3 linked regions of the Homo sapiens genome follow. The gene in region 1 interacts genetically with each later gene. Each region holds a gene or a part of one and is shown in the gene's direction. Other genes may lie near its edges. The genes, in order: USP48, NF1 and NF2.

Region 1 (3,654 bases):
TGTTCACAGTGCAAGGTACTGAACGCTACTGACATCTGGGGAAATGGCATGCCACCTCCCTGGGTTGACTTCCCAGGGGAATTAACACTGTACTTCTGACGGGGGTGTAGGGAGGAGGCAGGTCATGTGCTGTCAGCAGGAGACAGTTGATTGCTTCATTCTCTTTCAGATTTTAGAAAGAGAAGGGGAAGAAAATGAAGCCTTACATAAGATGATTGCAAACGAGCAAAAGACTTCTCTCCCAAATTTGTTCCAGGATAAAAACAGACCGTGTCTCAGTAACTGGCCAGAGGTATAATGATTCCCACAAAAGAAAGAATGCATCTTTTCTTTTTAAAGCCCTTGCCAAATTCCCAGTGAGCTATTTCAGAACAACCCAGAACTTCTCATATTCTCATTTGTTTAGTTATCTAACCAGGGGATTTACTCCAGCCTGCTATTTTTTGGTAGAGGACTGTGTTTTCATTTTATTTATAAAACTTGAATAAGGACAACCAAAGTATATTATAAGGAATTTGTGTTAAGCAGGCGGTGAATTGACGGATACTGTTTTGTGATTTTTGTGTTCTAGGATACGGATGTCCTCTACATCGTGTCTCAGTTCTTTGTAGAAGAGTGGCGGAAATTTGTTAGGTAGAAACAAAATATGTTTTATTTCCTTTATTGTTACTGATTTGGTTGACTCTGGTATTTTTTAAGATATCGTGGATTCTGTTTGTTGTACCCTTCCTTCATGGTTACTTTCACCAGCATACACTGAAAGCTTTCTTTTCTATTAATTAAATGAATAAGCCTAAGAAACACATTGAATTACTAATATTTTCTTAAATATATCTCTGATTTTGAAATAATTATTTTAAAATCTTCTCTTTCGTCATGCAGTAATTAGGTATATTTCTCCTCCTTGTCTCATTTGAGTAGAAAGCCTACAAGATGCAGCCCTGTGTCATCAGTTGGGAACAGTGCTCTTTTGTGTCCCCACGGGGGCCTCATGTTTACATTTGCTTCCATGACCAAAGAAGATTCTAAACTGTGAGTTCCTTCTCTTCATGTGATTTTTTTTTCTTCTTTTCTCTTTTTGATGATTAATAAAATATGTTTAGGAAATTTCTCATCTGACATAGTCTGTTTTAAGAATTTAGTCCTTTGCTGAATTGTGGGGTTTTTTTTTCCCCTTTTAAAAGAGAAGAAGACTGCTTCTCCAGGAAAGACAAGAGGCTGCCCGAGGCTATTTGTCTTTTTGCTCTTTCCTTGTCCCTCTTGAAGACAACACAGCCACCCTTTCTCTTCCCCCGCTGCTGGTGACCAGTGCTGAGACCTCTTTTCCAGAATCACAGAATCAACATGGTCTTGGTTATAGGTTTTGTTCTGCCATGGCCAGGCTTCAGACAATTAAAGGAGGAGGCTAGCAGGGTGGCAGAGCAAAGCCACTGCACTGGTCATCTGGAATTCTAGGGTCTTAGAACCCAAATTTTATTCCATGCTTCAAGTACTTCCAGAGGTGTTCATCTGTGAATTTCTCCCGATTTTACCAAAAATCGTGATATACGAGAAGGTAGAATGCTTCCAACATTGTCAGAAAATCAGGAAAAGGAAATTGGAACACATAAATAAAAATGCCCTTGGGGTTAAGCTAGAGTTTTATTATTCATATTTCAGTACTTTAACATCATTTAAGGGAGTTCAAAGTTTATATATTCTCTACATTTTCTCCCTCCTCTTTCTCTCCCTCCCTCTCTGCATCCCGCCTTCCCTGTTGCTCTCTCACTCTCGCTGTGCATCTCTCTTCTCTTTCCTCCCTCCCTTTCTTCCTGTCGTTGTTATTGCAAATGTCAGACTTCCAGGAAAATACACCAGTAAGCAAATGTGTGTTACCATTCAGTTTAAAAGTTAAATGGTTCAAATATGATTAAAGGCCCCACAGTGCTTATCCTTCTGTTGCTACTTCTCTTTCTCCCACCCTTCCTCTCACACTAACCACTGTACTGAATTTAGAGTTTATCTGTCTCAGAAAGTATTCTGTAAAAAAAAAAAATGCACGCACATAATGTCTTGCATATTTAAAACTTTTTATATAAATGGCACCATACTGTATTTATACTTCTGCAACTAACTTATTTTACTCAATTATGTTTTTGAGATCTAACCATGTTGATTCATGTAATTTCAGTCCATTTAGTTTCGCTGCTGTGGTAACATTCCTTTGTATGAAAAACTATTCTTTGTTGATGATACGTATCTTTTCTCTCTAATTCCTTTGGATTAAATGTTAGTGTTAATGGTTTTGGTTTAGCAGACTAATGGATTATGTTAATTCTCTTAATTTCCATGTGTCTTAAGGCATGTTGTGTTTTTTTTTTGCACAGTATAGCTCTCATATGGCCCAGTGAGTGGCAAATGATACAAAAGCTCTTTGTTGTGGATCATGTAATTAAAATCACGAGAATTGAAGTGGGAGATGTAAACCCTTCAGAAACACAGTATATTTCTGAGCCCAGTAAGTTTTCATATTGCTTTCGGTTTCTATAGTTAAGAGCTGACATTTTAAGAAGAAAGGGTGTGTCAGTGTTGTCTGCTTAAAGTTAAAGATCATGCGGCGGTCCCAACTCCCTAGGTGGAAACTCTCATTATAATCATCCCATTATTTGTACGTTTATTTATGGACAGTAAATGGATTTCCTTATCATTTGCATGTAATAGAATATAGTGGTTAATAGAAAATATTATTAAGAGTTTGGGCCAGCACACTAGCTCATACCTATAATCCTAATACTTTGAGAGACTAGGGTGGAAGGATTGCTTAAGGCCAGGAGTTTCAGACCAGCCTGAGCAACATAACAAGACCTTCTCTCTACAAAATAATAAAAATGTAGCACATATCTGTAGTCTTGAGCTACTCGCTGAGAGGCTGAGTCAGGAGCATGGCTTGAGCCCAGAAGCTTGAGGCTACAGTGAGCTATGTTCATACCACTGTACCCCAGCCTGGGTGACACAGCAAAACCTTGTCTCAAAAAAAGAAAATGTTACTAAGAGTTTAATGAATATTCACTAGTAACTTTGACATATGTTTTTAGATCTTTGATTCTTTAACAATGATTCCTCAGCCACTTCTGTTTTCCCTTTTTTTTTTTCCCCCAAAGAACTCTGTCCAGAATGCAGAGAAGGCTTATTGTGTCAGCAGCAGAGGGACCTGCGTGAATACACTCAAGCCACCATCTATGTCCATAAAGTTGTGGATAATAAAAAGGTACTGGTCCCTCTTGTGGCAATGACTAGTAATGATCAAGCGTGCTCTTTGGCTTGATTTGCTGTTGTATTTGCACTGAGGGTCTGCCTAGGACTGCATTTTTGTTCCTTCAGAGCTGTTTGGCATCAGAATTGAAATTGGACAATAATTGAAAATGAACAGTTATGTGATTATATGAGAATTTAGTTTGTTATTAATTGATGCATAGATATTTACTGAATGTCAGCTGTGTTCCAGGAATGGTCCAGGTGCTGGGGATACAGTGATAAAGAAGGCAGGTATAATACCTTCTCTCAAAATTATAGGCACCTAGTGAGGAAGATCAGGAATAAAGTATAAATTCATATGATTTCACACAGAAATGATTGTTTTGAAGGAACTTTAGCAGGGTCAAGTGGAGGTTAGTG
Region 2 (3,654 bases), on another chromosome or scaffold:
CCCGCCTCAGCCTCCCCAAGTGCTGGGATTACAAGCGTGAGCCACTGCACCCAGCTCTGTATTTTCAAATTACTATTTTATATTGATGCTACATTACTGTCTTAGAAAAGCATAGAGATACTTTGCAAGTGACTGAAGATAGTATTGATAGAGATTTAAAATTTTTGAATACCAATCTCTTAATCTCTGAAGGAGTCAAATGAATATACTCATCCTTTACTGGATATTTTATAATAAATTGTATTTACTGACAGGCCTGTAAATAAAATCTAGTATTTTTGAGGCCTCAGGTAAAATAGAATTTTCATATTGATTAGGCTGTTCCAATGAATATTTTTTAATTAAAAATTAAATTGGTAGAGTGATTAAAAACATGTTATTTTCCTTCTTCAACTAGATTACAGATCTGCTTGATGTTGTACTAGACAGTTTCATCAAAACCAGTGCAACAGGTGGCTTGGGATCAATAAAAGCTGAGGTGATGGCAGATACTGCTGTAGCTTTGGCTTCTGGAAATGTGAAATTGGTTTCAAGCAAGGTAATCACTTTTCTTTTGCCTTCTGTACTATAGCATATCTGTTTTATCATCAGGAGGTTTTTTGTTTTGTAATTACTTTTAAATTAAACTGAACTTTTTTGTGCTAAAACTTTGAGTCCCATGTTTTTTTTTTTAAAAAAAAAAATCCTGCTTCTTTACAGGTTATTGGAAGGATGTGCAAAATAATTGACAAGACATGCTTATCTCCAACTCCTACTTTAGAACAACATCTTATGTGGGATGATATTGCTATTTTAGCACGCTACATGCTGATGCTGTCCTTCAACAATTCCCTTGATGTGGCAGCTCATCTTCCCTACCTCTTCCACGTTGTTACTTTCTTAGTAGCCACAGGTCCGCTCTCCCTTAGAGCTTCCACACATGGACTGGTCATTAATATCATTCACTCTCTGTGTACTTGTTCACAGCTTCATTTTAGTGGTAAGTTCTAGGAAAGGAATTTGTGTTTACCAGTTCCTTTCTCCATTTTACTTCACCTGATCAATATAGATTATCTTATTTATGTTTGTGCTCTAACACCAAGTTGCTAATTTAAGCCTCCAGTAATGACATGAAATATTACCAAAAAGAAAATAAATTACTTCCATTCCATATCAAGCTATAGTAAAGATTTTCTATGCATACTTGTCATGTAGAGTTATCCCATAAGCGGAATACTCAGTGCCAGTTGACCATGTTCAGTTACCAGCACTAATTTGTAGATAAATGAAGCAAGGAGCATTAATACAATGTATCTAGAGGTTTGATTTAGGGAACATGATTATGTAATTTTTATATGGTATTCAAATTTTCTAAATTCAAAATGAAACATGGAACTTTAGAAATTAAAAAGTAATATTTTCTGTCTTTACTTGTTCCTTTATTCTCTTACAGAAGAGACCAAGCAAGTTTTGAGACTCAGTCTGACAGAGTTCTCATTACCCAAATTTTACTTGCTGTTTGGCATTAGCAAAGTCAAGTCAGCTGCTGTCATTGCCTTCCGTTCCAGTTACCGGGACAGGTCATTCTCTCCTGGCTCCTATGAGAGAGAGACTTTTGCTTTGACATCCTTGGAAACAGTCACAGAAGCTTTGTTGGAGATCATGGAGGTATAGAAGCCAAAATGATAAGAAACTAAGTTAAAATCTTTTTTTAAAAATATGTTAATACTATATAGAAGAAATATTGGTTTATTGTGCTATTTTGTACTTAATGCTTAAATAAAAACACTTGCATGGACTGTGTTATTGGTAACAGGTCACTTAATGACATCATAATAAACATTATTTAAACAGTTCTAAAAACATTTATGTACAATATGTATTCAGAGTATCCCCTTTTTTAGGCATGCATGAGAGATATTCCAACGTGCAAGTGGCTGGACCAGTGGACAGAACTAGCTCAAAGGTATGTCCTAAATTAAATATAAGTTGTAAAAATATGCATATTGTTGAAAATACAGCTATTACTGTATGATCAATGTTATAATTTATTATTTAGTATATATAAACACAAAGGTTTTTATAAGTTCTGTGGATCTTTTAATTGCAGATTTGCATTCCAATATAATCCATCCCTGCAACCAAGAGCTCTTGTTGTCTTTGGGTGTATTAGCAAACGAGTGTCTCATGGGCAGATAAAGCAGATAATCCGTATTCTTAGCAAGGTACCTGTTCCGCCCTCACTTCTCCCAAATATTTATGGTTCTCAAGTTGTAAAGCATATCTTTCATTTTTCTAAAAGACGTTTAAATTTGAGGTCAATGAAATATCTTATATGTTACTTATTAAGCCTTTAAAATGTATTTTGATTATTTATTGTAATTCTTTGAAGAAGTCTTCTCTAAAGAAGCTGTCTTTATATGTAAACTCTGATTACTTCATTAAGGAAGATGTCTTTAAAATAAAATATGTTGCCTCTTTTGCTAAGCAGGTACACTTAGTATTTTACCAGTTTTCAAAGCATTTAATTATATGGTAAGACTATAGCCTTGCATAAAATTATTTAATTTGTAATTACTATAATAATGTCTGACTCTTATAATGTAGAAATGTCAAAAAATAAGAAAACAAATGTACATTAAGCTAGCTACCAAGATCACCATAGCATGAGAAATCATTCTAGCATTTATTAAATAAGTAAATGTTCCTGAATTCATTCCGAGATTCAGTTTAGGAGTTAATGTTTTATTTCAATGAAAGTAAAATAAAAAATTCTGTTTTCCTAAAAGGCACTTGAGAGTTGCTTAAAAGGACCTGACACTTACAACAGTCAAGTTCTGATAGAAGCTACAGTAATAGCACTAACCAAATTACAGCCACTTCTTAATAAGGTAATTACTGTATAGAAAATGAGTGCATTCATTTTGGGTATCAGTGTTGAATGTTACTTTCTTTCAAAGAGTTTAGAAAATAAGATGAATTGAGAATAAGTTATAAAGAAAAAACTATAGTTAAAGTAGAACCTCTTAAAGTTTAGTTGTTTGAAGTAGTCATATTAGAAGAAGAGTAAGTATGGATAGTATGTTCTCAAGCGCTTGTAAGTTTTTGGTCTCATCAGTGCTAAAGGAAAGATAGGTATATATTCTTAATTATTTTATCTTATAACTATTAATTATCTGCTATTGCCAAGTACTGTTTTAGGCGCTAGAGATAGAGTACTAACAAAGCCCATAAAACTCACTGCCTTCATGGAGCTTACTTTCTGGGGTGGGTGTGGAGGTTGGGGAGTGAATGGATAATGAAGTAAACAAAATACGTAGTATGTTAGTGATTATTACTATGGAGAAATTAAAGCTGGGAGAAGTATACTTGATCGTCATAAGAGTTTGGGTGCCAAATGAAGATTATATTTAAAAGGAGTAAAATGAAGTGGCCACTGTTTTAGGATGGTCTGACCTTATCCCATTTTTATATTTAAGATATCTGGAAATCATGTTTTTGTATTAATAAAATGAAAAAGATTCGATAATGGCATGGTATTACCATCCAGTTCTAAAGTGGTTTAATTCTGTGATTTGAGTACAAAGGTATGCCAGACTTGGGAGAAATAACAGAGAAATAATACCTGTTATATTCCTGGTTTGTCTACAAGCATTCTAATTTTGTATTATACAA
Region 3 (3,654 bases), on another chromosome or scaffold:
ATGGAGTCTCACTCCATCGCCCAGGCTGGAGTGCAGTGGTGCGATCTCGGCTCACTGTAACCTCCACCTCCTGGGTGCAAGCGATTCTCCTGCCTCAGCCTCCTGAGTAGCTGGGATTACAGGCGCATGCTATCACGCCCAGCTAACTTTTGTATTTTTAGTAGAGATGGGGTTTCACCATGTTGGTCAGGCTGGTCTCGAACTCCTGACCTCATGATCCGCCCACCTTGGCCTCCCAAAGTGTTGGGATTACAGGCGTGAGCCACCACACCCAGCCGGTGATTAGGTTTCCACATATGAATTTTGAAGACACGAACATTCAGACCATAGCACTTCTTACCCTTGCACATATTGGCAGAGTCTCTATACTAACCATGGCAATCCCTATGGAGTGTTTTTGGTATTTGTATTGCATGGTTTTTCTGGCCATGCCTTGTAGTTGGACACTTTGTGGGTGGTTTCCAGATTTTCACCATCATAGATGCTGTCACTCAGTGTTATCTGTTCTCAGGTGAGGGTGGGGATCTTTTCTTCCTTGCGTTGGGTGAGCTTCTGAGTGAGCTTCTGTCATCTTTAGATGAAGTCTCAGAACAAGTGGGAATGTGGATGTGGCCTATCAAAAGAGATCACGTGAAGCTGGGCGCTGTGGCTTATGCCTATAATCCCAGCCCTTTGAGACCAGGGGTTCAAAGCCAGCCTGGGCAGCATAGCAAGATCCTATAAAAAAAAAAAAGAGTTTACTTGAATTACTGCTCCAAGAAGGGTTGAGACAAGGAGATTGTTCTGGGTTCCCAGGAAGCTTGTTTCACGTATGTTTTTTTTTTGTACAGAACGAAAAGCTGTCCATGAGAGCTGGTATTTGTAGAGCCCCCTATGAGAATTTACCAAGGGCTTTTCTACTCTTTCTTTTTCTTTCCTTTTCTTTTTTTTTTTTTAAAAATAGAGACAGGGTCTTGCTATGTTTCCCAAGCTGGTCTCCAACTCCTGGGCTCAAGCAATCCTCCTGCCTCAGCCACCCAAAGTACTGGGATTACAGGTGGAGCCACCGTGCCTGGCCTCCTACACTGTTTTATTTAATCCTAACCACGGCCCTGTGATCATTATCCCAATTTTAATGATGAGGAAACATTCATAGCATTTAAGTGACCAGCCCAAGCTCCCATGGCCTGTGAGTGGCCAAGTAGAGACGTGAACCCCAGGCCTCAAACCCTAGATCGCACACCAAGCAGCTTGTGGGCCGCAGAGCACCTGAGCCGTGTCTCACTGTCTGCCCAAGCCCTGATGCATGATACCCTCTTGCCGGCAGAGTGGAATACATGGAAAAGAGCAAGCATCTGCAGGAGCAGCTCAATGAACTCAAGACAGAAATCGAGGCCTTGAAACTGAAAGAGAGGGAGACAGCTCTGGATATTCTGCACAATGAGAACTCCGACAGGGGTGGCAGCAGCAAGCACAATACCATTAAAAAGGTACCCAGGGTCTCTTTCTTGTATTTTGCTGATCAGGACCATCATTAATGAAATGTGCGGTTGGCATCTGGTTTCCTCAGTAGCCAAGTCACTAGACTATTGGCATCTTTTGTATGTACTTAGTTGAGGAAATTTTTTAACTTATGCCAGAAAGGGAATTTAATCTGCCAATGACTATGAACCCATTGGCTGGATGGAAGTTGAGCTTGTGTTAAAAGCTCTGATGTAATGAACCCCTGTTACAGGGTGGATTTTGAGCCCTCATTTAGCAGTAAAGCATAATGCCCTTTTAAGCCAAGGGGTGTTATACCCAGGGAGCTGCCTTACTTTATGAGAAAGCAGAATGAAATGGAGGCTATTGAGAATGGACTTTCCCTCTAGTCTTGTGGTGTCTTTAAGTGGCAAGGACTATAAAACCAAACTGAATTTTTAACTTTTTTCATACTTAAAAGGAAGTGTCTAGGAAAGAACCTCTTTGTTTTAAAAGAGAAGACTTTATTACTTTGCAAATGGTTTCATATCTTTCTCTACTGGTATTTTGAGCTTTCAGCATTGTCGAGATTCAGAAGCTAAATTCCATACTAATTATCAGCCCAAGAGCATACCTCTCTCATTTGGGCCAAGCAGAAGGGTCCTCTCATACCAAATAATGCTCTGCTCTTAACTGATAGCCCAGGACCAGGTTAACACCTATAAAATAGGTGTTATTAAGATAAGACTGTCCATTGAGTTTAGGTGATACTGATACAGTTAATTTTTTATTCTTTACCTCAGTCTTTAAAATAGGCTTCCAGTTTTATGGACTGTCTCTGTTTTTAGTGGTTAAGCTGTATCTGAAAACTCCAGGGGATCTGTTTCTGCCTGCCTTCGTTGTTGGGTACAGTAGGCAGCCCTGACTTCTACCTCTCGACTCCAGTCACAACTGGCACCGGGTAGAGAATTCCTTTTAATAGTGCAACCTAGAAGGAAAGGCATTTCCACATTCCACATTCTTCTTTCCTCTGGCTTCTGTAATTTACTGGGCTTCCCTTCCAAAACAAAATTATTAAACAGTAAAGGGGAGTTCAAGGGAGGCCTCGGTCATTAAGGAAAGAGGTAAAACGATGGCTGAGCCAGTGAGCCAGTCAGCCCTTAAATGAACTGCCTCAGACACCCCATCTCACCCCTTACCCCCAGCCTTGTCATCTGGGTCCCAGGAACAGTCTCACCATTTCCACTGCTGCTGCAATGAGCAGTGCCCTCAGCCACAGAAACCTGCAGTGTGAGAGCTGGAGAGACCCCGTTCCAAGCCATTAAAACAAACAAAATCACTCATCACGATTTCAGGCCTATCCAAGCATTTTGCAGATGGCACTTATGGCATTGTTGATATCACAGGGTATGTTTTTGTTTTTCTTCATTTTATTTTGCTGGTTTAGCCTCAAGCCCAAGGCAGAAGACCTATCTGCATTTGAGCCCTCAAAGTAGGTTGTTCCCAGGTACTCTCTATGTGGTGATGGTGCTGCCCTCTGTGATACTAACCCGTGCATGAGCTTGCCTGTCTCTGTCCTCGGGCCACACTGAGCCCTTACGAGGGCAGGTGGTGCCTGGGTACTGGCCGCAGCATGCTTTGAGTCTAAAAGTAGGCACCCACCCTGTGAAGCCAGACCAGCCTCCAGGGCCCCAGAAGACTGCCTCGTTCCGAAGAGCATGTCATGGGGCTGTAGGACCAGCCATTCTTCCCATCTCGGGTCATTGTTGGGCTGGGGAAGGTTATGGCTTCTTGTCCAGTCAGGTGTGTCTAAAAGTCCTTTGTCTTGGTGGCATACTCCTAGCATGGAAATGGGGTCAATCTGGGCACTTTGGAGACTGGTGTGTTTAACTCAAGATCAAGACCTTTTATGCGTTGACAGCCTCTCAAGACCCATGGTCACACCTGGCAGCTTCTGGTAGTGGGGCAAAAGGGTTGCTTGTGCTGGCTCATTTTCCTTTAGAGCTTTCCCTTTCTGCACACATCCCTTTTCTTTTCAAATAAAGCAAACCCAGAGCACAGGGTCTGATATGTGAGTCCACGGGGAGTGGACTGTCTGTTCATCTGTGCTCAGCCACCTCTGCTTCAGCTTCCTCTCCATAGGCTGAGCAGAGATGTGGTCAGAGTGAACTCACATTGGAACAGTACACTCACGGCACCCTGGAGAGGAGCGGT

What was found.
Region 2: changes in USP48 (region 1) and NF1 together harm fitness more than expected from each alone (negative genetic interaction), as found in Homo sapiens cells (one large-scale study listed by BioGRID).
Region 3: changes in USP48 (region 1) and NF2 together harm fitness more than expected from each alone (negative genetic interaction), as found in Homo sapiens cells (one large-scale study listed by BioGRID).

What each region holds. Positions count from the first base shown.
Region 1 is NC_000001.11:21,703,105-21,706,758, reverse strand, and holds part of USP48 (ubiquitin carboxyl-terminal hydrolase 48), read left to right. Parts: coding exon 1-15; intron 16-169; coding exon 170-292; intron 293-571; coding exon 572-633; intron 634-921; coding exon 922-1,032; intron 1,033-2,366; coding exon 2,367-2,497; intron 2,498-3,140; coding exon 3,141-3,247; intron 3,248-3,654.
Region 2 is NC_000017.11:31,335,936-31,339,589, forward strand, and holds part of NF1 (neurofibromin), read left to right. Parts: intron 1-397; coding exon 398-538; intron 539-699; coding exon 700-979; intron 980-1,432; coding exon 1,433-1,647; intron 1,648-1,883; coding exon 1,884-1,945; intron 1,946-2,089; coding exon 2,090-2,204; intron 2,205-2,768; coding exon 2,769-2,870; intron 2,871-3,654. UniProt on the Homo sapiens protein: Stimulates the GTPase activity of Ras. NF1 shows greater affinity for Ras GAP, but lower specific activity. May be a regulator of Ras activity.
Region 3 is NC_000022.11:29,680,133-29,683,786, forward strand, and holds part of NF2 (merlin), read left to right. Parts: intron 1-1,306; coding exon 1,307-1,469; intron 1,470-2,887; coding exon of another isoform or gene 2,888-2,923; exon of another isoform or gene 2,924-3,654. UniProt on the Homo sapiens protein: Probable regulator of the Hippo/SWH (Sav/Wts/Hpo) signaling pathway, a signaling pathway that plays a pivotal role in tumor suppression by restricting proliferation and promoting apoptosis.